Homo sapiens: one gene and its partners. Changing the gene in region 1 together with any one later gene gives a genetic interaction. Each region holds a gene or a part of one and is shown on either strand. Other genes may lie near its edges.

Evidence for each region.
Region 2: changes in SEC31A (region 1) and ARFGAP2 together harm fitness less than expected from each alone (positive genetic interaction), as found in Homo sapiens cells (one large-scale study listed by BioGRID).
Region 3: changes in SEC31A (region 1) and SEC24A together harm fitness less than expected from each alone (positive genetic interaction), as found in Homo sapiens cells (one large-scale study listed by BioGRID).
Region 4: changes in SEC31A (region 1) and SLC33A1 together harm fitness less than expected from each alone (positive genetic interaction), as found in Homo sapiens cells (one large-scale study listed by BioGRID).
Region 5: changes in SEC31A (region 1) and ARL5A together harm fitness more than expected from each alone (negative genetic interaction), as found in Homo sapiens cells (one large-scale study listed by BioGRID).
Region 6: changes in SEC31A (region 1) and MAN1B1 together harm fitness less than expected from each alone (positive genetic interaction), as found in Homo sapiens cells (one large-scale study listed by BioGRID).
Region 7: changes in SEC31A (region 1) and VPS45 together harm fitness less than expected from each alone (positive genetic interaction), as found in Homo sapiens cells (one large-scale study listed by BioGRID).

The regions. Positions count from the first base shown.
Region 1 is NC_000004.12:82,880,737-82,885,026, reverse strand, and holds part of SEC31A (protein transport protein Sec31A), read left to right. Parts: intron 1-3,086; 5' UTR 3,087-3,090; coding exon 3,091-3,169; intron 3,170-4,104; coding exon 4,105-4,228; intron 4,229-4,290. UniProt on the Homo sapiens protein: Component of the coat protein complex II (COPII) which promotes the formation of transport vesicles from the endoplasmic reticulum (ER).
Region 2 is NC_000011.10:47,163,272-47,167,140, reverse strand, and holds the end of ARFGAP2 (ADP-ribosylation factor GTPase-activating protein 2), read left to right. Parts: intron 1-254; coding exon 255-381; intron 382-541; coding exon 542-635; intron 636-754; coding exon 755-873; intron 874-1,638; coding exon 1,639-1,659; 3' UTR 1,660-2,840; downstream 2,841-3,869.
Region 3 is NC_000005.10:134,651,249-134,655,538, reverse strand, and holds part of SEC24A (protein transport protein Sec24A), read right to left. Parts: intron 1-4,290. UniProt on the Homo sapiens protein: Component of the coat protein complex II (COPII) which promotes the formation of transport vesicles from the endoplasmic reticulum (ER).
Region 4 is NC_000003.12:155,851,107-155,855,882, reverse strand, and holds the start of SLC33A1 (acetyl-coenzyme A transporter 1), read left to right. Parts: upstream 1-1,455; 5' UTR 1,456-1,885; coding exon 1,886-2,660; coding exon of another isoform or gene 2,661-2,775; intron 2,776-4,776. UniProt on the Homo sapiens protein: Acetyl-CoA transporter that mediates active acetyl-CoA import through the endoplasmic reticulum (ER) membrane into the ER lumen where specific ER-based acetyl-CoA:lysine acetyltransferases are responsible for the acetylation of ER-based protein substrates, such as BACE1.
Region 5 is NC_000002.12:151,797,806-151,801,658, reverse strand, and holds the end of ARL5A (ADP-ribosylation factor-like protein 5A), read left to right. Parts: 3' UTR 1-2,862; downstream 2,863-3,853. UniProt on the Homo sapiens protein: Lacks ADP-ribosylation enhancing activity.
Region 6 is NC_000009.12:137,096,641-137,100,488, reverse strand, and holds part of MAN1B1 (endoplasmic reticulum mannosyl-oligosaccharide 1,2-alpha-mannosidase), read right to left. Parts: intron 2,662-3,848; coding exon 2,552-2,661; intron 794-2,551; coding exon 608-793; intron 1-607. UniProt on the Homo sapiens protein: Involved in glycoprotein quality control targeting of misfolded glycoproteins for degradation.
Region 7 is NC_000001.11:150,077,221-150,081,510, forward strand, and holds part of VPS45 (vacuolar protein sorting-associated protein 45), read left to right. Parts: coding exon 1-11; intron 12-448; coding exon 449-559; intron 560-4,121; coding exon 4,122-4,256; intron 4,257-4,290. UniProt on the Homo sapiens protein: May play a role in vesicle-mediated protein trafficking from the Golgi stack through the trans-Golgi network.

The DNA of each region.
Region 1 (4,290 bases):
ATTTGAACATTATGGATATGCACCAAATAACTATTAAATAACAAAGTAATTTTCATAAAGCAAAAGTTTCAGGAGATACCATGAGAAATTGACATAAATATATTAGCAGTAAGAGACTTAATTCACTGTTTCGGTCCAAGGCAGATCAAGTGGACAAAAAAGTAAGGATATAGGAGATCTAAACAAATCAATAAAGAGGACTTAGTTAATATATATTGAGCTCTAGGCCCTGAAAACAGAGAGCACCCCTTCTTTCTAGGTCCCAAGAACAATTCACAAAAATTCACTATATAGGCTCTATTGAAAGGAAAGGAGGAATTATAGGCATAGGGGATTTTAGGACAAGGGAACTACTCTGTGTGATACTATAATGACAGATACATGTTGTTATACATTTGTCAAAACCCATAGAATATACAACACCTAGAGTGAGCCCTCATATAAATTGTGGAGTTTCAGTGATAATGATGTGTTCATGTTAGTTTATGGATCGAAACAAATAGACCTTTATGATGTGCGATGTTGGTGGTGAGAAAGGTTATGTGGTTGGGAAATGTGTAGCAATTTTTTGTACTTTGTGGCTCAACTTTTCTAGGAACGTAAAACTCTAAAAGATAAAGCATATAGCTTTTTTTATTTTTAATCAAAATCCTATGAAAGGTGAAAAGAAATTTTTTTTTTGAAAAAAGCAAAGTCAAAAGATAGTCTATCAACTTAATAGAAAAATTGTCGAATGATGGCCGGGCGCAGTGGCTCACCCCTGTAATCCCAGCACTTTGGGAGGCTGAGGAAGGTGGATCACCTGAGGTCAGGAGTTCGAGGCCAGCCTGGCCAACATGGTGAAACCCCGTCTCTACTAAAAATACAAAAAAATTAGCCTGATGTGGTGGTGTGTGCCTGTAATCCCAGTTACTTGGGAGGCTGAGACACCAGAATCGCTTGAACCCGGAGGCAGACGTTGCAGTGAGCCGAGATCGCCCCACTGTGCTCCAGCCTGGGTGACAGAACGAAACTCCATCTCCAAAAAAAAAAAAAAAAGAATAGAAAAGAAAAATGGTCAAATAATACATGACTAGACAGAAGAGATGACAGAAAAGGAAATATGTTTACCCATAGTCATACAAAAAAAAGATGTTATACATCATTTATAGTATTACTATACAGAGCTAACATTTTTATTTTTCTCTTTTTTTTTTTTGAGTCATGGTCTCACTCTGTCGCCCAGGCTGGATTGCAGTGGCGCAATCACGGCTCACTGCAGCCTCAACTTCCCGGGCTCAAACAATCCTTCCTCCTCAACCTCCCGAGTAGCTGGGACTACAGGCGTGCACCACCATGCCCAGCTAATTTTTGTATTTTTTCTAGAGATGGGATTTCACCATGTTGTCCAAGCTGATCTTGAACTCCTGGGCTCAAGCAATCCACTTGCTTCGGCTCCTAAAGTGCTGGGCTTACAGGCCTGAGCCACTGCACCTGGCCTTTCATTTTTTAGTGTTGGTATGATCTAAAAGTGTGACAGTATGCTCTGATAAGGCTGTAGGGCAATAAGTAATCGTATATTACTGTTGGTGGTATGAAAAGGCACAATTGCCATAGAGGACAACTTGGTAATATTCATCAAAATTAAAATTGCATTAACCTTTTAACTTAGCAATTTTACTTCTGGAAATTTATAGCTGTCCCTTTTTAATGAAATAACGTGCAGATGACCATTTATTTCAGCACTTTTTTGTAAAAATAGCTAAAAACAGCTTAGGTGTTTGTTGGTATTAGACTAGGTAATTATGGTACATCTTATAGTGCAGTACTATGCCATTTCAATATATTTATGTAAAAATAACAAAGATCTTTAAAAAGTACATAATACTATACCGTTGTAATTTTTCCATCAAAGTAACTTTTTTTTTGAGACCGAGTCTCGCTCTGTTGCCCAGGCTGGAGTGCAGTGGCATGATCTCGGCTCAATGTAACCTTCACCACCTGGGTTCAAGTGATTCTTCTGCTTCAGCCTCCCAAATAGCTGGGATTACAGGCATGCACCACCACACCTGGCTAATTTTCTTGTATTTTTAATAGAGACGGGGTTTTGCCATGTTGGCGAGGCTGGTCTCGAACTCCTGGCCTCAAGTGATCCAACTGCCTCGTCCTCCCAAAGTGCTGCGATTGCAAGCATGAGCCACCATGCCTGACTCCATCAAAGTAACTTTAATGACAGAAAATACGTAAACAAGTGGTATATGGGATTATACCTTGAAGTGACCAGTTTTCTAATAATTTCTACTTTATCTTTAAAATCTGTGGGCTTACTATATTCTCTCTAATATGTTGTAACTTTGAATTAATTTTTTAAACTGCTCTTATCATTGAGTAATCCTACTCCAGGAAGTTGCACCTTATTTATTTTTTGGCTGCTCTTACCCGTAATGTTTTGTCATCCATCCTAGTTGGATAAACACATGTGTAGCAAAGTTAATTCTTCAGGTACTACCTTATTATTTTTGTGGGCTATTTTTCTAGACTGATTCAACTGAAGAACTATAATCTGTAAACAGAATAGCCCAGTATTTGTCTCAAAATGGTTTATCAAGTTTGTCTTTTTTTTTTTTTTTTTTTTTTTTTTTTTTTGAGATAGAGTCTTGCTCTCTCGCCCAGGTTGGCATGCAGTGGTGCAATCTCAACTCACTGCAAGCTCTGTCTTCCGGGTCATGCCATTCTCCTGCCTCAGCCTCCTGAGTAGCTGGGACTACAGGTGCCCGCCACCACGCCCGGCTAATTTTTTGTATTTTTAGTAGAGATGGGGTCTCACCATGTTAGCCAGGATGGTCTCAATCTCCTGACCTCGTGATCCGCCCGCCTTGGCCTCCCAAAGTGCTGGGATTACAGGCATGAGCCACCCGGCCTCAAGTTTGTCTTCTTTCTAATGAATATATCCAACAAATGACACCTAAACCGATTTGATTTATTTGCAGTTGGGCATTACTAATGTTGTAGTGGTTTGTTCAGTATGTTTCTATTTAAAATATCTGTGTTCTGTGTTAGACATTCAAGTCATTCAAGGCTGTTTCTGTATAAAATATTCCCTTTAGCAGGATGAAGTTAAAGGAAGTAGATCGTACAGCCATGCAGGCATGGAGCCCTGCCCAGAATCACCCCATTTACCTAGCAACAGGTAAGTTCAAAGGAGAGAAGATAGTATGAGTTACCTAATTTCTTCTCTTCTGCACCTAGCTTATTCAGTTTAAGCTTTATCTTCTCTAGAAAGCCTCTCTCTCCCTGGCAAGTTACTGACATTCTATCAGCCAAGTTTAGTGTTCTTCCTCTGTGTTCCCATAGCATTTTGATCATGATGTGTTACATCTAAAATATTTTCCTTCACAGGAATTGTATTTTATCTTTATTCCTCCAGTATTAAGCACAATAGATGGCATGTAAAAAAAACAGTTAATATCAGTTTGAATGAATGAAGAGCAATTTTGATGTTAGCATTTTTATATAAAAAGAAATAGTTATATCATATATGTCTATAAGCAGATATAGTAAATCACGGGACTTTTTTTTTTTTGAGATGGAGTCTTGCTCTTTCGCCCAGCCTGGAATGCAGTGGCGTGATCTCTGCTCACTGCAAGCTCCACCTCCCTGGTTCCTTCCATTCTCCTGCCTCAGCCTCCCAAGTAGCTGGGACTACAGGCGTCCACCACCATGCCTGGCTAATTTTTTGTATTTTTAGTAGAGATGGGATTTCACCATGTTAGCCAGGATGGTCTTGATCTCCTGACCTCATGATCCACCCATCTCGGCCTCCCAAAGTGCTGGGATTACAGGCATGAGCCACCGTGCCCAGCCCCCATCACGGGACCATTTTTACAGAGATTTTTAAATATATACAGGCTTAAAAAATTATTTACACTACCCACTCTTATAAACATCCTCTCCTAGCCCTGTGCCAGAATCTCATTGCTATAGTAATTTAAGCATCTGCTCAATGGCATATGTGCAGCATTCATGAGCAAGAGAATGGAAAACATGCTTTTAACTTCTGTTTTGTATGGTTTCTCTGATCTTTTATTTTTGTGTGTATAGTTACCATAAATATATTTTCTATAGGAACATCTGCTCAGCAATTGGATGCAACATTTAGTACGAATGCTTCCCTTGAGATATTTGAATTAGACCTCTCTGATCCATCCTTGGATATGAAATCTTGTGCCACATTCTCCTCTTCTCACAGGTATGAGGTTCAGCTTTAAATTCATGTGATTATTTAATTATATATTGTTCTTGATTCCTAAT
Region 2 (3,869 bases), on another chromosome or scaffold:
CAGGAGCCTAGGCCACTGCAGGCTGTATTTCCACCCTGCCTAGTGCAGGTTCCTAAGCTCTCTGGGCCTTGGCCTCAATGTGGAGAAGGGTGACTCCTCACCAGGGGAGAGGGGCCCAGAGCCACAGAGCCACAGACAGAATGGGACCTGGTAACCCATCACCAAAAGGCCACTGGTGCTCTGTTTGGCCTCTGTACTCTGCCTCCCCTGATGATAATGGGAGGAGTCCGAGATATTCCACATCTTCCCCTCAGAGCCACAAACCGGAGGGAAGTGGAGAGCCGGAGCTCAGGCCTCGAGTCTAGTGAGGCGCGTCAGAAATTCGCAGGAGCCAAAGCCATCTCATCTGACATGTTCTTTGGGCGGGAGGTGGATGCAGAGGTAAGTGGGGCTGTCTGCCCTGAGGTCCGAGGCAGCAGGCAGAAGCATGAGCTTTCTCCCTGCCGCTGCTTTGGGCTTTAGCACCAGGAGGGCCTGGCCTGTGTGAGTCCTTGGGTCATCAGCCCCAAGATCCCCAGGCCTGGCCTTTTCCTCACCACAGTATGAGGCCAGGTCTCGGCTGCAGCAGCTCTCAGGCAGCAGTGCCATCAGCTCTTCAGACCTCTTTGGGGACATGGATGGAGCTCACGGAGCAGGTAGGGCCCTGGTGGGGTGGCAGGCACCAAGTGAGGCCTGGGAGCAGGGCGGGAGGGCCCTGCTGTGACTGGGAAGGGCTTCTTGCTGGGCTCTGGGTCACCCTGCTCTTGTTTTACAGGAAGTGTATCTCTGGGGAACGTGCTGCCTACAGCGGACATTGCCCAGTTTAAGCAGGGTGTCAAGTCTGTGGCTGGGAAAATGGCTGTGCTGGCCAATGGTGTGATGAATTCCTTGCAGGTGAGGCTGAAGTGGGGCCTAATGAGGAGTGCTGGGAGGTTTGCCCTTCGCCACCACATAGAGACACTGCTACTGCTCAGCCCCTCTGAGCCTTAAGAGCATTTTCGGCCGGGTGTGGTGGCTCACGCCTGTAATCCCAGCACTGGGAGGCTGAGATGGGTGGATCACTTGAGGTCAGGAGTTTGAGACCAGCCTGACCAACATGGCAAAACCCCGTCTCTACTAAAAATACAAAATTAGCTGGGCATGATGGCGTGCACCTGTAATCCCGCTACTCGGGATGCTGAGGCAGGAGAATCGCTTGAACCTGGAGGTTGTAGTGAGCTGAGATCATGCCACTGCACTCCAGTCTGGGTGACAGGAGTGAAACTCTTGTCTCAAAAAAAAAACCACAAACGAAAAAGCAAGAGTCTAGAGAGAGGCATTTTCTTGGAGGGCAGCTTCCTTCCTTTCAGCTCCGTGCCAGGGCCGGGCCTCTCCAAGATGCCTCTGTGTCTGCCATGATCTTCCCTGGCCTTGTCACCTGTACCGCTCTTTCTCTTCTCTTCCCAGCTTCTGTGAGGCCAGGCAGGGCTTCCCTGTTGTCGGGTGCCCGAGTGGCCGCTGCCCCAGCTCTCACCGTGGACTCCTGCCTCACCGGGCTGTCCAGCCCCTGCCTCCCCAGTCTTGCTGTGGGGTGCTGGGGCAGGCAGTGTGTTTGCTGGGAAGCTGCTGCAGCTTAGAGCCTCTGACTTTTTTTTTTTTTTTCTCCCCCCTCGCCCCCAGGATCGCTACGGTTCCTACTGATCCGAGCTCTGTGACTCAGGCTTACGATGGTGACGGCAACAAGAACTCCACAGTTCCCAGGCTGGGGATGCTTTGCCTTGTGGAAGCTGGGGAGGATTTGTTACTTCGTATGTGTGGTGTGTGTGTGGGGTGGCCTTTGAGGCGCTCACTCCTGTGAGGGGAATGGTCAGTACCAGCCCTTGTCCTCTGCCTGTGGACTGAGCCCTTTATTCCCTCTCACACCACCCTCCGTGTGTTAGACTCTTGTCCTTCTGTCCTGCCCCCACAGCTGCTGCTCACTTATCCTGCCATACTGGGAAAGGGGGTTCCCCCACGATGGCTTATTCTGGGTCCAGACTTTCCCCAGGTAGGGAAAGCGGAAGGTAGAAGGCTTTTTTTGCTGGCTCTAGGGTTCTTCTAGTTCGAGGCCTTGGGTCCCCATCCTCTGGAACCAGGGGGAGGCCTGGAAGGAGTTCACTGTAGACCCGTCCCATGGGGAAAGAGGCTGCGGACTTGCTGCTGCTGCTGCTGCCAGTGGCCTCTTCTGGGTGCCAGGAGAGGGGAAGGACCTTTGTCTGGGCGTTACCAAGGGCTGGAAACTTTACCTGGTACCTAAAGGTTTCATTTGGGATCAGACCGGAGACCCTTGGGTTCTCCCGTCTCACCACCCCTTTCTACAGTAAGCACTTGGAAGATTGTTTCAGGGTGTCTCAGGGTCCCTCTGTACCATCTGCTGTGGAATGCAGGACCCTCTGTGACATTCTTTATCCCTTCTTCCCCGGGTTGGTGGCCATGGAGGGTCTTGTCTGCTGTGATTCGACTCTGGATGCTGTGAGCTTGATGCTGGCCAGGGAAGCAGAGGATGTGAGAGGCAGAGGCAGGCTCCTGGGGCTGAGCTCCTTCCTCTGCATCATTCTGGGCTTGGCCTGGACAGCACCCGCCAGTGAGAGCTGTGGGCCTCACCCTCTGGCAGCTGAGCCAAGCACTGTCATTCTTGGTGCCATCTTCCCCTGCCGCACCGGCAGTCTCAGCCCAGCCCCCACCTTTGGGTTGTAGGTTGGGCTCCCAAGCAACACAGACCACTCTTCCCCTTGCCCCTCCCCCAGAGGGACTTGACTTTCTTTCTGGACTGTTTGTATTGAAACAAAGTGGTGTCAAAATAAAGCCCCTGCAGGGCCTGGCTCCCTGTTGGTCTGAGTGAAGCAGTGTCCTCTGGATCCTGCCTCCCTGCCCAGTGCCGGCCCCTGGCCTCACTCTCTGGGCTCCCACCGGTAATGGTAGGGCGTCGGTACCGAAGCTGAGGACACTCTCTCCAGGGCCTCCTGCTTCTCTCTTCTCTGAAAGCCAAAGGCCCCTGGCTCCTTGGCTCTGTGCTGCCGTGAGGTCCGGTGCAGCTTCGACCTCACCACCCTGTGGCACGCAGAGGAAAGAGCTGGCATTAGTTGGCCCTTTAACTCGCTGGCTGAGGGCGAGCGAGCAACCTCAGCAGTCCTGCCCCTTGTCACGGCAGTAGGCTTGACTGGGGATGGGTTTCAGTGGAGTTTAAGAAATATTTAACGCCGGGTACAGTGGCTCATGGCTGTCATCCCAGCACTTTGGGAGGCTGAGGCGGGTGGATCACTTGAGGCTAGGAGTTTGAAACCAGCCTGGCCAACATGGTGAGACCCCATTTCTACTAAAAATACAAAATTAGCGGGGTGGGGGCGGTGTGGTGCATGCCTGTAATCCTAGCTACTCAGGAGGCTGAAGCAGAAGTCACTTGAACCCGGGAGGCAGAGGTTGCAGTGAGACTAGATCGCGCCACTGCACCCCAGCTTGGGTGATAAAGTGAGACCCTGTCTCAAAAAAGAAAAAATTACATATATATACATACACACACATACTCTTAGACGTTAATGGGACCCTTTAAATTTAGGGAAGAAAAGGTGTGTGTTTGTGTGTAAATCCTTAGCTTGGCCACCCCTTTCTCTTGGGGGCTTCTGAAACATCTCTGTGCCACCTTAGGAGTCCTCACGGTAGTTACAGACCACTGGTCTGGGAAGTGGATGATTAGAAAGGATGGGCAGAGGGAGCCAGGGGGCTGTAAGCCAGGGATTTGCAGAGTGTAGGTTTGGGACTCATTCAGCTTTGGGATCATCTGGAATTTCTGGACTCCATCCCAAGTTGATAGAGTTAGACTCTCTGGAGCTTGGTAATTTGCATCGTCAGTAGGCTTTCCTGTGATTCTGAGG
Region 3 (4,290 bases), on another chromosome or scaffold:
TAGCTGGGATTACAGGCGCACGCCACCACACCCGGCTAATTTTTGTATTTTTAGTAGAGACAAGGTTTCACCATGTTGGCCAGGCTGGTCTTGAACTCCGGACCTTGTGATCCACCCGCCTTGACCTCCCAAAGTGCTGGGATTACAGGCATGAGCCACCACGCCCAGCCTTGTGGCCTTATTAAGGACAATTTTGGGATGTGTGGGTAAAGAAGCTAAATTAGAAAGTTAGAGGCAAGAATGAATGCAGATGAGTGCTTCCCACCCAACCAGCAGCTTCAGAATCAGAGGAACCTGCTATAATAATGGTACAAATTGAGATCCCAGGTCCCACCTTTGTAAAATCCTATTTCATAGGATTCAAAAGGATCCCAGAATCTGCATTAGTAAAAAATCTCATGTGGCCGGGTGCGGTGGCTCACACCTGTAATCTCAGCACTTTGGCTCAGGCGGGCAGATCACCTGAGGTCAGGATTTTGAGACCAGCCTGGCCAAAAAGCTGTACGTTTCTTTAGGAAAGCCTGGGCCAGGCGTAGTGGTTCACACCTGTAATCCCAGCACTTTGGGAGGCCAAGGTGGGAGGATCACGAGGTCAGGAGTTCGAGACCAGCCTGGCCAAATGGTGAAACCCATCTCTACTAAAGACACAAAAAAATTAGACAAGCATGGTGACGCACACCTGTAATCCCAGCTACTTCAGGGGCTGAAGCAGGAGGATTGCTTGAACCATGGAGGTTAAGGCTGCAGTGAGCCAAGACTGCACCACTGTACTCTAGCCTGGGGGACAAAGTGAGACCATTTCTGAAAAACCAAAACAAAACAAAACAAAACTGCAGTTTCTAACTGGCTTTGCAAGTTGATTCAGTCAATAAAGGCACTAATTAATGGTGGGAGTCATTATTTGCCTTTAGCGTTAATACATGATAATCAGATTAAGATCCATTAGTTTAAGGTCTTGTAGTCTGCTATCAATTTTTGCAAAGGAAATATGTATACACAAAGACTTAGAAAAACCTCTCAGCTGGGCGCAGTGGCTCACGCCTGTAATCCCAGCACTTTGGGAGGCCAAGGCAGGCAGATCACGAGGTCAGGAAATTGAGACCACCCTGTCCAACATGGTGAAACCCCGTCTCTACTAAATATACAAAAATTAGCTGAGCATGGTGGTGCACGCCTGTAGTCCCAGCTACTCGGGAGGCTGAGGCAGGAGAATCACTTGAACCCGGGAGGCAGAGGCTGCAGTGAGCCAAGATCTGCACCACTGCACTCCAGCCTGGGTGACAGCGTGAGACTCCGTCTCAAAAAATATATATATATATTTTTTTTTTTTGAAAAAGGCTACTGTTAGGTCTTTTGTTTTTTATTAATTTATTTATTTTTGTGACAGGTTCTCACTCTGTTGCCCAGGCTAGAGGGTAGTGGCATGATCATGGCTCATTGCAGCCTTAACCTCCTGGACACAGGTGATCCTCCTACCTCAGCCTCCTGAGTAGCTGGGACCACAGGCTGGCACCACTACACTGGACTAATTTTTCTTACTTTTTTATAGATATGGGGTCTTCCTATGTTGCCTACCCTGGTCTGAACTCCTAGGCTCAAGCAGCCCTCCTGCCTTGGCCTCCCAAAGTGCTGGGATTACAGGTGTGAGCCACTGCACCCGGCCTATTTATTTATTTTTGAGACAAGATACTGCCATGTCACCCAGGTTGTAGTGCAGTTGTGCAATTGTAGCTCACTGCAGTCTTGACCTCCTGGGGTCAAGTGATCTTCCTGTCTCAGCCTCCCCAGTAGCTGGGACTACTGGGCCCGCACCATGCCTATTTTTTAAAAATTCTTTGTAGAGACAGGTTCTCACTATGTTGCCGAGGGTGGTCTTGAATTCTTGGGCTAAAACAATCCTAGCACCTCGGCCTCCCAAAGTGCTGACATTACAGGTGTGAGCCACCACACCTGGTGAGGTCTTTTGACTATAATATATAAAATATCTGTGCTAGATGTTGTGGCTCATGCCTGTAATCCTAGCTCTTTGGGAGGCCAAGGCAGGAGGATTACTTGAGTCCAGGAGTTCAAGACCATCCTGGGCAACAGAGTGCAGCTCTGTTTTCTAAAAAAAACTGTTTAGTTAGCCAGGTTTCAGGGCATGTGCCTGTAGTCCTAGCTTCACAGGAGGCTGACGTGGGAGGATCACTTCAGCCAGGAGGTTCGAGGCTGCAGTGAGCCATGATCAAGTGACTACACTTCAACTTGGGTGACAGAGCAAGACCCAGGCTCTTTAAAAAACAAACAAACAAACGAAACTGGAACGGGTATGGTGGCTCACACCTGTAATGCCAGCACTTTGGGAGGCTGAGGCAGGAGGATCATGAGGTCAGCAGATAGAGGCCATCCTGGCCAACATGGTGAAACCCCGTCTCCACTAAAAATACAAAAATTAGGCCGAGCACAGTGGCTCATAACTGTAATCCCAGCACTTTGGGAGGCAGAGGCGGGCAGATCACGAGGTCAGGAGATTGAGACCATCCTAGCTAATATGGTGAAACGCTGTCTCTACTAAAAAAAAAAAAAAAATACAAAAAATTAGCCGGGTGTGGTGGCGGGCACCTATTGTCCCAGCTACTCGGGAGGCTGAGGCAAGAGAATGGCATGAACCCAGGAGGCGGAGCTTGCAGCGAGCCAAGATCGCACCACTGCACTCCAGCATGGGTGACAGAGTGAGACTCCGTCTCAAAAAAACAAAAACAAAAACAAAACAAAACAAACAAACAAAATACAAAATCAGCCAGGCATGGTGGCATGTGCTACAGGTGCCTGTAACCCCAGCTACTCGGGAAGCTGAGGCAGGAGAATCGCTTGAACCTGGGAGGTGGAGGTTGCAGTGAGCTGAGATCGCACCACTGCACTCCAGCCTGGCAACACAGCAAGACTCCGTCTCAAAAACAAAAAACACCAAACTGGCCAGGCACAGTGGCTCACGCCTGTAATCCCGGCACTTTAGTAGGCCGAGGTGGGCGGATCACCTGAGCTCGGGAGTTCGAGACCAGCCTGGGCAACGTGGCGAAACCCCGTCTCTACTAAATATACAAAAATTAGCTAGACATAGTGGCGCATGCCTGTAGTCCCAGTTGCTCAGGAGGCTGAGGCAGAATTGCTTGAACCCAGGAGATGGAGGTTGCAGTGAGCCAAGATCACGCCACTGCACTCCAGCCTGGGCAATAGAGAAAGACTATCTCAAAAACAAAAAACAAAAGCAAACTGAAGATCTAATTATACTGTAATATGTAATTTAAGCAAACTTCATTAAATACTTAAGACTTTTCGGCCAGGCGCGGTGGCTCACGCCTGTAATCCCAGCACTTTGGGAGGCCGACGCGGGCGGATCACCTGAGGTCAGGAGTTTGAGACCAGCCTGACCAATGTGATGAAACCCTGTCTCTACTAAAAATACAAAAATTAGCCGGGTGTGGTGGCATGCACCTGTAATCCCAGTTGCTCAGGAGGCTGAGGCAGGAGAATTGCTTGAATCTGGGAGGCAGAGGTTGCAATGAGCCATTGCACTCTAGCCTGGGCAACAAAAGTGAAACTCCATCAAAAAAAAAAAAAAAAAGAGTTTTCAACAGAATATGCAAGCATCAACTACTGCTTTGGAATAGTTAAGCAAAACTAGATCCCAGCATTGAAACGTTTTCTCACCTTCTTGAAAAATATCCTGTTCTCCAACTTGATACCATATCCCTACTCTCTGTATTATTAGCAGGATGAACAATAAAACAACCCAGGCTAGGCTTGGTAGCTCATGCCTCTAATCCCAGCACTTTGGAAGGCTGAGTCAGGAGGATCACTTGAGGTCAGGAATTTCAGACCAGCCTAGGCAACATAGAGAGACTCATCTCTACAAAATATATATAAAACATTATATATATAATATACATATATCTTTACATTAGGCCGGGCGTGGTGGCTCATGCCTGTAATCCCAGCACTTTGGGATGCCAGGGTGGGCGGATCATTATGAGGTTTGGAGTTCAAGACCAGCCTGGCCAACATGGTGAAACCCCATCTCTACTAAAAATACAAAAATTAGCCGGTTGTGGTGGCACAGGCCTGTAATCCCAGCTACTCGGGAGGCTGAGGCACGAGAATCACTTGAACCTGAGACATGGAGGTTGCAGTGAGCCGAGATCGAGCCATTGTACTCCAGCCTGGGCAACAGAGTGAAACTCTGACTCAAAAAATAATAATAAAATATATACATTATATATATATATTATATACTTATATAAAAAATGGGGC
Region 4 (4,776 bases), on another chromosome or scaffold:
GGTTGGATTGCAGTGGCACGATCCCGGTTCACTGCAACCTCCGCCTCCCAGGTTCAAGCGAGTCTCCTGTCTCAGCCTCCCAAGTAGCTGGGGCTACAGGCGCGCGCCACCAGGCCGAGCTAATTTTTTGTATTTTTAGTAGAGACGGGGTTTCACCGTGTTGGCCAGGATGGTCTCAATCTCTTGACCTCGTGATCCACCCGCCTCGGCCTCCCAAAGTTCTGGGATTATAGGCGTGAGCCACTGTGCCTAGCCTGCCATTACGTTTGTAATCCCAGCACTTTGGGAGGCCGAGGCAGGCGGATCACGAGGTCAGGAGTTCGAGACCAGCCTGGCCAACATAGTGAAACCCCGTCTCTACTAAAAATACAAAAATTAGCCGGGCGTGGTGGCGCGTGCCTGTAGTCCCAGCTACTCGGGAGGCTGAGGCAGGAGAATCGCTTGAACCCGGGAGGTGGAGGCTGCAGCGAGCCGAGATGGCCCTACTGAACACCAGCCCAGGCGACAGTGTGAGATTCCTCTCAAAAGAAAAAAAAATAATAATCTTTCTGCCAGAGGTGAGAGAGCAGAAAAAAAATTAATCAGATTCTCAAATTCCTGTACGTCTCTTAGTAGAGACGGGTTTCTCCTTGTTGGTCAGGCTGATCTTGAACTCCCAATCTCAGGTGATCCGCCCGCCTCGGCCTTCCAAAGTGCTGGGATTACAGGCGTGAGCCACCGCGCCCGGCCACAAGACGTTTTATTGCAACATAAAAACAGGATGTAACGAGTCTTCCAATCACCAATGTAATTAGAGTTGGTTACCAAGTTTCCCCACGCGTCTTCCACCATGAGGGAGAAACGGACTGCAGACAAACCTAGCACCCCTTGAGCAGTTTAATTCGTACTATAAATATGTAGGCACCGTAAGGACGCGATTCTCCAGTTTGCCAGGCCTTTTTCTATCCTTTTGGGGGCACAAGGCGACCTTGCCTCCTGATTCAAAAACTTCGTAAACGTCAATCCTTCTACCCTTTTCTGGTCAGCCCACGAAAGCAGCAGCATGGCACAACTCCCAGCCTAGAGTTCGGGCACTGCCTGTCGTCAGCATAACGAAGAAACCTACACCCACGAAGACTTCAGACCCCACGTGATTACATCACTCAACCACCAGCGCTGGCCTGGAGGAACCCGCTGTCACGTGACCGCTCGTGCCCAATGACCGAGGCCCACGCTTTCCAGACCGCCACAGTCGCTGTCACAGGGCCTGAGTTTGGGCGGCGCCCCGCCCCGGCCGCACGGTGCGCCGGCGTTAATCCTCCCCGAAGGTTCCGGCAGCCAAGATTGCAGGTTCCCACCAAGCATTGTTTCCGAACTGGGCCACGAGAGCGTGTCCCTGATTGGCTTGCTCTGGAGGCTGGGAAGGGACCTGTTAGAGACTGGGACCACTTCCTGAAGCGCGAGGCAGGAAGTTATATGCTTTTTCTGGAGTCCTGTAGAGAAAGTGCTCTCTGCCGCATTGATAGCAGCGAGAGCTGGAGGTGTTGGGTCGGGAGACCAGCCGTTCGATCCCGCCGCAGGTAGGAGCTGGTTTCCATCCTGGCACCACGGCACACACCTCCAGCCTCGAGCCCGGCGCTGCTGCCCGGGGGTCTCCTTCAGGCTCTTTGACGCCGTTCCAGGGGGCACCTATCCAGGCATCCTCTGGGCCTCTAGCCAGAGGACTGGCTCCCGGCTTCAGCACTCCGGGCTGCAGTAAGAAGTGCCCTTATCGCTCTGAGCCCTGCCACCATCCCGTGAACCACCGAAACCCTGGTCCAGCGCGACAGCCTTGGACCTGGGACTGGACGGATCCAAAACGCTCAGCCTCGGCCCCCCACAGACGGGGCTCTGCATCGTCTCTGATATGTCACCCACCATCTCCCACAAGGACAGCAGCCGGCAACGGCGGCCAGGGAATTTCAGTCACTCTCTGGATATGAAGAGCGGTCCCCTGCCGCCAGGCGGTTGGGATGACAGTCATTTGGACTCAGCGGGCCGGGAAGGGGACAGAGAAGCTCTTCTGGGGGATACCGGCACTGGCGACTTCTTAAAAGCCCCACAGAGCTTCCGGGCCGAACTAAGCAGCATTTTGCTACTACTCTTTCTTTACGTGCTTCAGGGTATTCCCCTGGGCTTGGCGGGAAGCATCCCACTCATTTTGCAAAGCAAAAATGTTAGCTATACAGACCAAGCTTTCTTCAGTTTTGTCTTTTGGCCCTTCAGTCTCAAATTACTCTGGGCCCCGTTGGTTGATGCGGTCTACGTTAAGAACTTCGGTCGTCGCAAATCTTGGCTTGTCCCGACACAGTATATACTAGGACTCTTCATGATCTATTTATCCACTCAGGTGGACCGTTTGCTTGGGAATACCGATGACAGAACACCCGACGTGATTGCTCTCACTGTGGCGTTCTTTTTGTTTGAATTCTTGGCCGCCACTCAGGACATTGCCGTCGATGGTTGGGCGTTAACTATGTTATCCAGGGAAAATGTGGGTTATGCTTCTACTTGCAATTCGGTGGGCCAAACAGCGGGTTACTTTTTGGGCAATGTTTTGTTTTTGGCCCTTGAATCTGCCGACTTTTGTAACAAATATTTGCGGTTTCAGCCTCAACCCAGAGGAATCGTTACTCTTTCAGGTAGTGTATTTAAGCTATTATGGTGTTAGGTTTATTTATCCTTTTGAAAGAGTGTGTGACGTTGGAGGGAAGCTCATTAATTTACTGGAAATCATTGTATGGGAGATAACTCAAGGTAAGTTTTCTGTTTCGTCCAAATGAGCTTCTTTGAAATATTAAAGCCAAAATGAATGATATTAGAGCAATCAAATGATCACTATGCGGTTAACAGGGAGAGGCAACCCATCAAATAACACAACCGAGTCCAGGGATTCATGCCACTTGCTTAATACACAAATGCACACTTTTAAAAAGTGTGGCTCATATGGTTCACATTTTTCCTTTTGTCTTGTTGGTTTTAGGTTTCTAGCTCTATACTTTCTAATCCATTTCTACCCCTACCGTTGTACCCAGAATCCAGCCTTCTAGTGAATGGAACAGGGTTTATTCGTTCAAACATTATTGAACCAGCTAAGGGACGGGATTCTAAGGCCTCTAATGAATAAGGCAGAGTTCTGCACTCAAGAAATAAGGAAGATGAACATTTTAGGAGAGTTCAGAGTTGCCAGTTAGTAACTGCCTTTGGGAGTCAGGCTTCACATTGCAGATAACATTTGACTTTGTTCTTGAATAAGATTCCACGAGGCCAGGAAATGGCACACCAGAATGCACAACACAAAGTAAAAGTGCACTGAGGCAGGAAAGTACAAAAAAGTACAGGACATTGCCTAAATTGTGGAACTGGGTTTGGGAAATCGTGCTGAGAAAGGCTGTGACTAAATTAGTAAGATTTTCTTTAATTACTATGGGAAAAGAGTTTAAAGTTTGTCCTGTAAGTAATGGAGGGTAAGTTCTAAAAAATTTCCCTGTTTCTCTGCATGAGTAAAACACATGTAAGTTTTTCTCTTTTTTCTTTTTTCTTCTTTTTTTTAATTGAGATAGTTGGGGGTCGGGGGGGCTGTCTCACTATGTTGGCCAGGCTGGTCTTGAACTCCTGGCCTCAGGTGATTCTCCCCCTCCTTGGCCTCCCAAAGTACTGGGAATTATAAGTGTGAACCACCCCACCTGGCCTAAGCTTTTTTGTTTGTTTGTTTGTTTTTAACTTTTGTAACAACTAGAAAACAAGTAAAATGACCAATATCAGGAATAACAATGTCAGGAATATAGTGAAATTCTTCATTCTGTCAGTGATGATGAATTTAGGGGATTCTGTTTTGAAATTTAAGCAACTGAACTTCTCAGCTTCTGTGCTACCTTGGAAATTCACAGTAGAGTAAATGTCCAGGTATGTGGTGGTGGTAGGAGGTGTCACAACTACACTATTTTCCTGCAATCTTATTCTCACAGACATCTAACCTTATGTACACCTCCTCAAACTGCTAATGAGTGAGCCACTATTACTGGTGAAATGATGGTGATAGTACTTTTTCCTCAGTTGTTTGGTTGAGAGATAATTGCTTTGCACCCAGGTAGATTTGTCTCAGTGTTCTGGGGTTCCACTCCTGCTTTATGAATAATTCACTGCTGGCCGGGCACAGTGGCTCACACCTGTAATCCCAGCACTTTGGGAGGCTGAGGTGGGAGGATCACTTGAGGTCAGGAGTTTGAGACCAGCCTGGCCAGCATGGCGAAACCCCATTTTTGAGACTCTGTCTCAAAAATAAATAAATAAATAAAATAAAAAATAAGTCACGACTGGGCACAGTGGCTCACACCTGTTATCCCAGCACTTTGGGAGTCTGAGGTGGGAGGACTGCTTGAGCTGAGGAGGTAGAGCCAGCTTGGGCAATACAGCAAGACCTCATCTCTACTAAAAATTAAAAAAAAAAAAAAAATAGCTGGGTGTTTTGCGAAGGCCTGTAACCCTAGCTACTCAGGAGGCTGAGGCAGGAGGATTGCTTCAGCCCGGGAGATTGTGGCTTCAGTGAGCTATGATCCAATCATTGCACCCCAGCCTGGTCAACAGAGTGCAACCCTGTCTTAAAATTATATATATGTATTTTTTATATGGAGTCTCCCTCTGACACTAGACTGGAGTGCAGTGGCAGGACCTCAGCTCACTGCGATTTCCACTTCTCTAGTTCAAGCCATTCTCCTGCCTCAGCCTCCTGAGTAGTGGGATTACAGGCATGTGCCA
Region 5 (3,853 bases), on another chromosome or scaffold:
ATCCAGGTCAGGCATGGGATATCAGTATTTAACATTGGATGTTTTATGTTTTATATTTATAATGTTCAAAATGCAAGCATAACATTTAATATTTGTCCACATGGTTTTACAAAAGTAAATCTTAAATTACTAAGCTTTTCCCATATGTTCTCGTACTTTCTCAAATCCCTATAAAGAATTACTTGTTATCTATTAAAAATCTCCTTTACCCAAATCTGTATTATGGTTTCGCCAGACAAATATTATGTGATGTAGCCCAGAAAATCCACACCTTTTGTCCTTTTTATGTTTTAATTTGAATAATCATGTGCTTAGTCCCTTGGATTACTGCCACATCAGTTTAACACGATATCAGCACATTCCCTTGTCATCATCAAGGTGTTGGCTCAGATTTATTCTTAATTGGATGTTTAAAGCATGTACTACCTTGTTACAGTTGGTTTAGTGTAGTGGATTATTGACATGACATCATGAGAAGATGTGTAATTTTATACCACATTTATAAAACATGATTTTGTTTTCTACCCTTCAAGGTAAACATTAAAAATAAGGTGGTACTTGTGTACTTGTACATAAAACCAAAATTATAGTTGGGAAAAAAATAAATTTATATATGAAAATGTCAAAATCATTTTAAAAGTATTATTTTCAAATAAAATGGAGAAGCTGGTGAAAAGTCATATTGGCAATTTTTATGTAGTTTAAGTGGAATTAAGCAGAGGGAGATGCTTTTGGGTTTTTAATATGCCACTTCTGAGTGAAAACATCTCGTGGAGTCATTGTGTTCAGCTCTGAGAAGAACAAAGATTCATAGTTCTGTACATGTGGCTGGATTTAAATATCCTGTTTTTGATACTAATTTTGAAAGTCATGTAACTTCTTTTGATATCTGGGCAAAAGTAACCATATGCTATAAGCATTTGAATATGTTTAATTTTATCATAATAGCATCTGTAAAAGTACATCTTACACATTATATAGAGGGTTCTTGTTTGAAATTTTCAGTTCTCTTTATCTTCCCAGTACCTCTTGGTCCTCATAATGGGCAAAGGATACAACGAAGGCAGGTTGTATAGGGGTTATAGTGGGGAAGTGGATAGGGGATTCATTTTCTTATGTGACATTTTGCCTTAAGAATATAAAAGTGCTTTAGCACTGATGGCTGGCATTTTTAATATAGGCAGTGAAAGTGACTTTAGAAGCATGGGATGAAATAGAGGGAAGAAGAGTTTTTATTTTCTGGCCTTTAAAAAGTGCCTAGTAGGTCATTTGAGACCCAGAGAAATGCACAGAGCTTGAGCAAAGGCATGAAGTCCCTGACATTGTTTTCCTTTTTGTCTCAGCATATAGTATTAAGATGCCTAGAAATAGGACTCTATTGTTCCCTCTTGTATAGGCACTTTACATTTCTTGTCACTACAGCAACCACATACAGTACAGACAACCTCCAAACCTGTTTATATTAGTGTAAATAGAAAATCTATAGACAACTTTCTAGTTTTCTCTGGAGGCATTTTTGGGAATGTACGTGTAATAGGCTCTGCTTTGTATACAGGAGATAATACCACATCATCGGTTATCTCCAAACTCCAGTCTTCTCTCAACTGCCCAGTTGTATGTTGTCATCAATCACTTTTTCAAGGCTGGGTAGAGACAAGTTTCTCCTCGTAACTTTGACCTCTCCCACTCTCCAAATGTAATCTGGACCTCATTGCTTTCAAGGTCAGCTTCCCCATAGCTCAGGTATCCTTTGCTCTCCTGTATCTTCATTTACTATTAGTGAAGAGATCTCTGTCCTGGAGGTTATTCTAAACTTTCTTTGTAACTATTGTTATAGACAATGGTTTCCAAACCAGTGGTTTCTATGTAGCTTTTCTAGTTCCTTGCTATCTTCTCACCACTGGCTTGAGGTAGTGATTTGGACTTTGCTCATTAGAGAGCATTATCAGAGATGTGGAGTCCATCAGAAGACCAGCTTGCAGTGTGTATAGCATATAGATGCCAATATTAGAATTCTTTAAATTATATTTAACATTTTCATGCTTCTTAATTTAACTTCACATGTTGGGAAGTAGATTCAGAAAGATAGGAGAAATACCCAGACTCTACCACTTCCGTGAGCTACTAGTTAGGCATGGGCAGGATTAAGTTTTATGTGTATTATCTTCCCACTACCAAGAATGGTTATGTTTCACAGAATACCAGTTCAGTTTGATTTGGAAAAAGATGCCAAACCAAATTTATATGTAGTCTATAATCTAAGGGCATTCTTGAAACTATTGCCCACATCCCATTTTTTTTTTCATGTTTACTTACAAAACAGAGATAAACATTAGATGTCTAAAGGAGTTAGTAATGAAAAGCCTATCCTTAAAAAATAAACCTGTTGAAATGGGCTTTAAAGACATCGAAATAATCACTTGTCATGCATTGACTGTAAATGCAGATAGAGAAATATGTCTTTGAAGCTCCACTTACACAAAAATAAAACTTGTATATCATGCTCCCTCAAAGAATGTGCGATAGATTATTTTAAGACCATGATAATAGAGTAAAAAGGAAAGAAAGCCAGAAATTACAATTTTGGATGCTAAAAAGTAACTTTCTAGTTAACCCTAAAGTCCTGTCAGATTGTGAAGAAATGTTCCAGGATACACTTGGATTAGTTATGCAGTATTTCTTATCAATGTCTAGCCCTTGTGTATTGTTCTGAAAACTAAAGTTTAAATCTTTATGCTGTTGCTTGCTAGATATCCTGTTCTTTGGTAGAAAATTCCCATAGTCTGTACTCAAGAAGTGCCTAAAAATGGATTTGTGTTGATTTTAAGCCCATCTAATAAATTATATGTATTTTCTATGGTATCGTATGGCTTGTCTTAACTGATGACACAGCCTAGAGGATTTCTGTCACAATTTGTGCTTTATTTGAATACAAAGTCTTTTTTTTTTTTTTTTTTTTTTTTTTAGACAGAGTCTCACTTTGTCGTCCAGGCTGGAGTGCAGTGGCGCGATCTCGGCTCACTGCAACCTCTGCCTCCTGGGTTCACGCCGGTTGTCCTGCCTCAGCCTCACAAGTAGCTGGGACTGCAGGCGCCTGCCACTACGCCCGGCTAATGTTTTGTATTTTTAGTAGAGATGGGGTTTCACCGTGTTAGCCAGGATGGTCTCAATCTCCTGACCTCGTAATCTGCCCGCCTCAACCTCCTAAAGTGGTGGGATTACAGGTGTGAGCCACCGCGCCTGGCCTAAATAAAAAGTCTTGAAATGGAAGATATTCACCTAACCCTCAACAAACCATGATGTAATGAAGCACGAATCACACCATTTTGTCTCTTTCCTAATTCAAATAGGTCCCTGGCATTAGTTCATGCCGAGACTAGAAAACTGAACCCTAGTACTGTTTTTTAAAACAGTTTTAACAGAAAATTAAACTGTATGTTTGAAATCATAAGTAAAAGTTTGTTGCTTGCATAAGAGTAGCCTCTTGATTCTCATAGTGGTAATTTTGTGTCATATCATTTAGATGTTGAACCATTTCATTTGTGCATGTGTATATGTGCCCAAATTCATCCTCTTTGTTTAGAATCTGCTTACAAATAAAACTAATAGAATCTGAATACATTTATCATATATTCTTCCAGGGTTTTTCTTAACTGACTATAGAGAGTGGCTGTAAGTTCTGGGGCAAAGCTTGATTGTATTTTCAGTGATGTATAGTTACATTGTTTCATGTTAAAATCATCGTGCATGGAAAGTGAAATGTGCGTATGATTTTAAATTATTGTAATATGTACTATACCCTTCCCCTAAACTTCTTTCATTGATGATACACAGAATTCCTCTATTTTTGCTT
Region 6 (3,848 bases), on another chromosome or scaffold:
TTCCCCTGCAGGGCTTCAATATCACCTCCTATCTCAAGGGGGTAAATCTTGAAGTCGTCAACATTTGTTAATAAAACGGAGTCAGCAGTGCAGTTGCTATGGCCACCAATGGGTCACAACCAAAGGCTACGACCCAAAAAAATTACACACGTCGTTTACTGGTGGTCTTCAACCTATTCAAAAAATTAGGCAAATGTTTAAATTATCGCTTAAATAACCGAAGACACATACTCCCAATTCAAAGTGGATGTGCTGGTCTATGAAGGATGCTGCTGAGATCTGGGACCAGCGGGGCCCCACAGTCACTCATCCCACCACCCCCAGCTGCAAGAGAAGCACAGCCTGGGAATGTCCCTTGGACGTCCCCCAAAGAGTCCACACTCAACTCCTGCAGAGGTCTGGGGACAGCGGCCCTGTGTGTGCCTTGGGTGGCTGGACAAGAACAGGAACTGACCACAGCCAACACGTCCACTCCCGCACCCAGGAGAAGGGAAAACCCATGGTCAGATGCAAACAGCAGCTTTCACCCCGTGTGCAACCCACACTCTGCCTCAGCACACGAGGCCCACACGGAGGGCTCAGCCCCTCCCCAGAAAGCACCAGGTACCTTTCCTCAGACCCAAGATCCACATGGTGTCCAGCGCGTCGATCAGTGTGAGACCGAGGCCAAACCACTCACTGAAGGACCTGGACACAGGCTTCAGCTCGTCATGGCCCCATGCAAACTTGCGGTATCCTTTCCATGCATGCAGGAAGACGTCAATCACGCCCTTCTGGCGATAGTTCAGATGCACTAGTAGGGGGGAGAGAGCACAGGCCATGGCGGACGTGGTCCTGGCGTCGGCACAGATGGACACCCTCAGGCAGAGCACTGCTGTGACCCCCATGGGGCAAAGATGACGGTGGGTTTGGGACGACGGGAAGGGCGGTGGTGGGCACAGCAAAGGCCAGGGCCACAGAGGCTGCAGCAGCCCCCAGGGAGAACACAGCCTGCCAAGGGCCTGAGACCTCTGGAGACTGCACAGGATGGCACCTGTCACCCGACCACCTGACTGGGGCCCATGCACCTCCACCTGGCGCCTGGGCAGGCACACCCTCCTTGGGCCTCGGTGGCCTCTGGCCAAAGGGACAAGGGTGGCTGCCCCAAGGGCGCTGGGACAGCACAGTGAGCACAGCCTGTGGAGACGTGGGTGAGTGTGGTGCCAACTCAGAATGTGAAACACGGACGGGTGCAGACCTCGCGATGAACATCCTCGACTCAAACACGCTCCTTCTGCCACGTGGGCTTCAGGTGCTCCACGGGAATCGCACTGTGCACACGCGCTACAGTCCCTTCGTTCCCTTTTTTTAAATTTTTTTGGCTGGGCACGGTGGCTCCCGCCTGTAATCCCAGTACTCTGGGAGGCCGAGGTGGGCAGATCACCTGAGGTCAGAAGTTTGAGACCAGCCTCGCCAACATCGCGAAACCCCGTCTCTACTAAAAATACAAAAATTAGCCAGGTGTGGTGGCGGGTGCCTATAATCCCAGCTACTAGGGAGGCTGAGGCAGGAGACTTGCTTGAACCCAGAAGGCAGACGTTGCAGTGAAGTGACAAAGCAAGACTCTGTCTCAAATATACACATATATATAAATTTCTTTTTTTTTTGTAGAGATGGGGCCTCACTGTGTTGTCCAGGCTGGTCTTGAACTCCTGGACTCAAGAGATCCTTCTACCTCAGCCTCCCAAAGTGCTGGGATTACAAGTGTGAGCCACCACGCCCGGCCAACATTGACTAATGTGTGGATTGACACGTGTGTAACGGCACCAAACCACACGTCCTCTCAGGAAAGGTTCTGAGGCCTCCTTGTGCTCATGGCATGTCTATGCCTCTGCCTCTGCCTCTGCCCTCATTGATGCCGCAGAGATTGCTACACATCCCTCACAGGCCCGGGGCTGGGAGTCCTGGCTCTGGGCTCCCTCCCCACCTCAGAGACACCTGGGGGGCATGATGAGAGCAGGGCTCCAGACTCAGCGACCTGCCATGAGCCCCCACAGACAAGCAAACGACTCTGGGGGTGGCTGTCCTCAGCCCTGCTTTTCAGTCTGGAGAACGGGAGGGTGAGTGGCTTATCGTGTCAGAGGGTGTCATGAGGTTGAAAGAGGCCTCAGGTCATGCACTGAGCTTGGCCGAAGGCCCGCACCTGGGAGGCCCCCAACAAACGGTGCTGAGAATGAAGTGGCCCCCAGAGCTGCCTGGGACTGGCCAGGCCGAGACAGGGGACACAGCACGGGCAGCAGTCTCCAGGGATCCCGTGGGGCAGCCTGGCCCAGACACAAACCTCTCAGACACACCTTCTTCTGCAGCCATGTGCTCAGGGACAGCAGGCCAAGAGCCACATGGTGTCACCAAGGTTGCAGAGCCTGTGAGGACTCAGACAACAGGGGGATGCTGAAGGGCAAGGTGCACACCAGGGCGGGGGCGCCACCCACCATGGCTGAGACGAAGCCTGCACCCATCAGCCACCAGCCCCTGAGCGCCCGGGGAGGAAGGGGTGCAGGTGTGGCCTCACCTGGTGTGCCCTGTGTCCTGGCCGGTGGCAGGGGAGGCTTGGTGGGCACTTCTGCTCTTCTTGAAGGGAGCTCGGTGCCCTGCTCAGGCTCGATCACCGCTCCCCTCCAGCTTCGGGGGAGAAGGAAGGGTGTCAGCTGCCGTCAAACATTTGTGGCTCCATGTTTCCCACCCCCACGCTCCATACCCACGGCCAAGGCACAGCCCTGCACCCAAAGCGGCCCCATCATCCTGAGGTGCAGGCTGCTGAGTGGCAGGAAACACACAGTTCAGTCCTGAGCTCCCGTGCCTGAGAGCCAAGACCACAGCACTGCTCCAGGGTCAAGGCTGGCCTGAGGTCAGAGACCAGAGCTTGGAGAATCGTGAGAAATCCCTCTGCAGAGGCCGGAGGCGGGGGGCCTCTATGGTGGAGGAGTAGAGAATCTTTCATCCAAACAGGAGCACTAGTGACAGTGAGGTGGCCCCAAGATGCCAGGATGGCCACACAGACGGGGGCTGTCCCTACACACGAGACGCATGGCCACTCAAACTCCCCATCGAGTTCTGTCCAATGGCCATCAGGAACAGCTATGAGGTTGTGTAGAGGGTTTGCCGCGCAACCTCCTAACTGTGGCTGGGCCCGAGCGTTCTCTTGGGGCCCTGTGGTGAATCTGTCCCAGGATCAGCAAAAGGCCTCTTACAACCACAGATGGCTTACATGCTGGGAGTACAAACGTGGCACTTTTGACAAGCTGAGGTCAAATCCTCTTTTGCTCTGGAAGTAAAGCGTCCTTGCATTCATGCCAACGCTAACTAGAGCACAGTGGCCCTCAAATTCTCCTCCTGGCCGTGAGGACCCCTCACATGCACATGTCCACGCCTCTCACCACGCGCTTGAGTTCAGGGCCTCTGGGCCCGTTTCTTCGGAGCCCATCTCTCACGGCGGACAGCGCTTGTCTCAGGCCACTCCTGCACAGCAGCCCTCACTGGCCCTGGCTCTGCCCACACTTTGTAGAAGAGAGAGGACGTCTGCGGGGAACCCTTCCTTCCGCCTCAACCACAATCAACTCCGTTTCTAAGAGCGTAACATGGAGCCGGAAACGAGGCAGAGACGCCTCCAGCACCGAAGCTCCACTGGGATCCACTACCTGGACTTGACGAACCGGGCAGAGGACAGCACTCTGGGAGCCTGGGCACCGGGCAACTCCCTCTCCCTCTGCTCTCTGCTCGACCAGATGGGGCTCGGGAAAGGAGGTGGCCCAGGCAGCCAGCGTCCACCTCTGAGCCTGGCTCCCCATCCCCACGCACCTGTGCACCCT
Region 7 (4,290 bases), on another chromosome or scaffold:
AGTGCGTTAAGGTATGGCATTACCTATTCCTGGTTCCAAAACATAAAGGCCATTCATTTCTCTATCATATTTCAGAAACTAAAGGAATAGTTTATTTACAACCAAGGAGATGATTGTATGTTAGGTTTCCGCGAAAAGAGGTAGGTATATGTAATTTAAAACAAAAAGCAACAATTAGAGCTAAGATTCTTAGGTTTAACCCAAGAAACATTCACAAGCTATTTAACTTTTTTTGGTCCAGTTAAACCACTTATAAAATAGGGTTTCATATCCTAACCTCTTAAATAGTATGCTACTAAACTTTGTGAGACTTTTGAATCCTTCATATGGAAGATCTATGTGGGTGCAAAGAACTATTGTTAAATGTAGTGTTTATTAATTTCCTATTTATATCATTTCTATATGTAACTAGATGGTTGCACAAACCATCTTTCTCTCTCACCCACAGCAAGTGATAACTAAAGAATATGAACTGTTTGAATTCCGTCGGACAGAGGTTCCTCCATTGCTCCTTATTTTAGATCGCTGTGATGATGCCATCACCCCATTGCTAAACCAGGTACAAAACCCTTTCTTGGCATAATAGAAGGATAATTTTAAGTGATATTCATCAAAATACAGATAGGGAAGTAAAAACATGGTCCATTTATTTGCCTCCTTATTTTTAGCTATTCTTGGTTTTGCTTTGTATTTCCTGGTGTTTTGGTATCATGATTCTTCCATCCACTGTCATCATAACTCTTCTGCTTCATCTCTCCTGTACCTTTCTGCCAGTACCTCCACCCCTAATCAAGACAGCTTCTTAATTCTGTAGATTCTATTTCCCTGTGTTTCCTTCTGTCTCCTCATTTCCATGCTTACAGCCATTGCCTTGGTCTAGATCCTAATCTCTTGCAAGAATATTGAAATAGTCATCTACTTCGTTCCCTACTTTTTATTTCTTCTCACTCCAAATGTTCCACAAGTACAATTTCCTAAAGCACAGCTCTATCTTATTACTCTTGGCTTAAAAAACTTCATTGGTTCCCATTTGCCTACTAGGTTAAAAAGAAACTCCTGAACTTGGCATCCAAGAGCCTTCACAATGTGGGCTAAACCTCTTATAAAACCTAGAGTTCACCACTTACATAGATAATGCCACATGGTTTCCTGCCAGCATGCTTTTACTGTGACTGCTTTCTAAACTCTAGAATGTTTGGAATACCTTCTCTTCCCATCTTCACCTATCAAAATACTGCTGTTAAAACCACTCAATCTGGCCGGGCACGGTCGCTCACGCCTGTAATCCCAGCACTTTGGGAGGCCAAGGTGGCTGGATCACCTGAGGTCAAGAGTTCAAGACTAACCTGGCCAACATGGTGAAGCCCCGTCTCTACTAAAACTACAAAAAAATTAGCCGGGTGTGGTTGCACACACCTGTAGTCCCAGCTACTTGGGAGGCTGAGGCAGGAGAATCATTTGAACCCAGGAGGCGAAGGTTGCAGTAAGCTGAGATCATGCCACTGCACTCCAGCCAGGGCGACAGAGCAAGACTCCGTCTCCAAAAATAAATAAATAAATAAATAAAATGATTTATATGAATAATAGCAAAGAATAAAAAAAAGAAGAGCCGGGCGCGGTGACTCACACCTATAATCCCAGCACTTTGGGAGGTCGAGGTGGGTAGATCACCTGAGGTCCTGAGTTTGAGACCAGCCTGGCCAACATGATGAAACCCTGTCTCTACTAAAAATACAAAAAATTAGCTGGACGTGGTGGCAGATGCCTGTAATCCCAGCTACTCAGGATGCTGAGGCAGGAGAATCACTTGAACCTGGGAGGCAGAGGTTGCAGTGAACCGAGATCATGCCACTGTCCTCCAGCCTGGGCAACGAGAGCGAAACTCTTGTCTCAAAAAAAAAAAAAAACACTCAAAAGCCATCTCCAACATCCAGCCATTCTTCAACATCTCGAAGCCTGTATTCTTTCAGTCAGATATTGTTCTTATCTCCTGAAAATCCCTGTAGACTTGTAGACCTTTGTGTCTCTCTCATGTCTCATGCTGTACTTGCCATGTTGTAGCTTTGGTTGTTTACATCCTCTCCTACGTTACATATTTCTTCAAGGCAGACTGAGTCTCACCAGTGTTTTTTCTCCTTCAAGTATAAGAACAGTGCACATAGCGGGTGCTCTATTAATAGTGATTTTGTATGTGTGTATGTATTTATTGAGACAGAGTCTCTCTCTGTCACCCAGATTGGCGTGATCTCAGCTCACTGCAACCTCCGCCTCCCAGGTTCAAGCAATTCTCATGCCCCAGCTTCCTGAGTAGTTGGGATCACAGGTGCACACCCCCACACCTGGCTAATTTTTGTATTAAATATTTTTAGTACAGACAAGGTTTCTGTCTAAATATTGGCCAGGCTGGTCTCGAATTCCTGACCTCAAGTGATCTGCCCGACTCGGCCTCCCAAAGTGCTAAGATGACAGGCGTGAGCCACCACGCCCGGCTGTGACTTTGTATTTACAGAGAAAGGCACAGTCTATGTTTCAGTTTCTTCCCAGCTTGTACTAATGTTAATGCTAAGGGAAATCTGTGGAGTGAAACTTCTCTGTAGTATAAAATAGCCTTGTATTCCTAAAATTCAAAGTAATATATGTTCACCAAAGAAACTTTTGATAATATCAAAAAGTAGAAAGAAAATTAATTGCCTATTATTCTGTCTCCCAAAGAAAAGCAACTATTTATCCCACAGATTTCACTGGGGACTTCTTTTGTGCCACGTACTAAACTAAGTACTAGAGATAAAAGGTTAAAAGTTACAATTTCTGTCCTCAAAGAGCTCATGGTCCAATTATGAGAAAAATAAACATAATTTTAATTGTAGAGTAAGTGCTAGAAGCATGTACAAGAAGCTATCCATAAAAGCATAAAACATTTTGTTGTACGTTTTTTTTTTTTTGAGATGGAGTTTTGCTCTTATTGTCCAGGCTGGAGTGCAATGGTGTGATCTTGGCTCACTACAACCTCCGCCTCCTGGGTTCAAGTGATTCCCTGCCTCAGCCTCCTGAGTAGCTTGGATTACAGGCATGTGCCACCATGCTCGGCTAGTTTTGTATTTTTAGTAGAGATGGGGTTTCACCATGTTGGTCAGGCCGGTCTCGAACTCCCGACCTTAAGTGATCCACCCACCTCAGCCTCCCAAAGTGCTGGGATTACAGGCATGAGCCACCATGCCCAGCCTTGTTGTACTTATTTTAAGTGCGACTTAATGGAACTTGCTTTTTCAAGAATTCCTTTGGCAAATCTTTTAGGAAATAAGCACCTTCTTTTATAACCTTCTAAATTATTTCTTAATAAATCTAGTTTTCTTAAGATAAAATATGTATATAAATATTTCTAGCATTTAGATTCTAGATGCAGAAGGGAACATGCTAGAAAATACTTCATTTTGTCTAACAGACCTATGACTGAAAGTAATCTATTCTCCATAATTGGTGAAAAGGGAAAATTTGGAGATTTCTCATTTCCAGTTTTACCAAATAAATTCTCAATTTGTGAGACTGGAAACCAGTCCTTCCTCTCATCTCCCCTTAGGTAAAAATATAAAATAAAATGGGTTCAAAGGTAAGTTTCTGAATATCCCAGTGTTTTGATCAACTCACAAGGTTTTTCTGATAATATTAGTGTTCCCAGGACAAATATAGTACCACTCAGATCTGCAAGAACACACTTCTCATGCTGCAGAAAACCATAGAAGCATACAGGAAATGGTACAGCTTGTAACTGCAGTACCAATATAGCTCTATCTGTGAAGCCAAAAATATACTCTTAATTCACAGGCAAAAAATTGGAGCTAATAATAGCTCTAATTTGTTTTCTTTCTATCAAGAATATTAATCTTGCTGCCCTTTTTCCAAAAGTATGAAATCTAAAAGTATTTTGACTTTTCTTCAGTGTTTAATCAATTAAAATGACAGTCTTAATGCTTATAGCACAAAGTATGAATAAAATTTAACTCGAGAATCTTCATGTAAAGAAGACTAGTTAAAGAATGTTATCAGTTTTTATTTGTTTTCCTGAACGTTTACTATTTCCATATTCTGTCAGTTACCTTTTTTTTTCATAATTCTTTATTTAGTGGACATATCAGGCCATGGTCCACGAACTACTAGGCATAAACAACAATCGGATTGATCTTTCCAGAGTGCCGGGAATCAGTAAAGACTTAAGAGAAGTGGTCCTATCTGCTGAAAATGATGAATTCTATGCTAATGTAGGTGGTTTAAATTTTTTTAAATTGTCTTTAG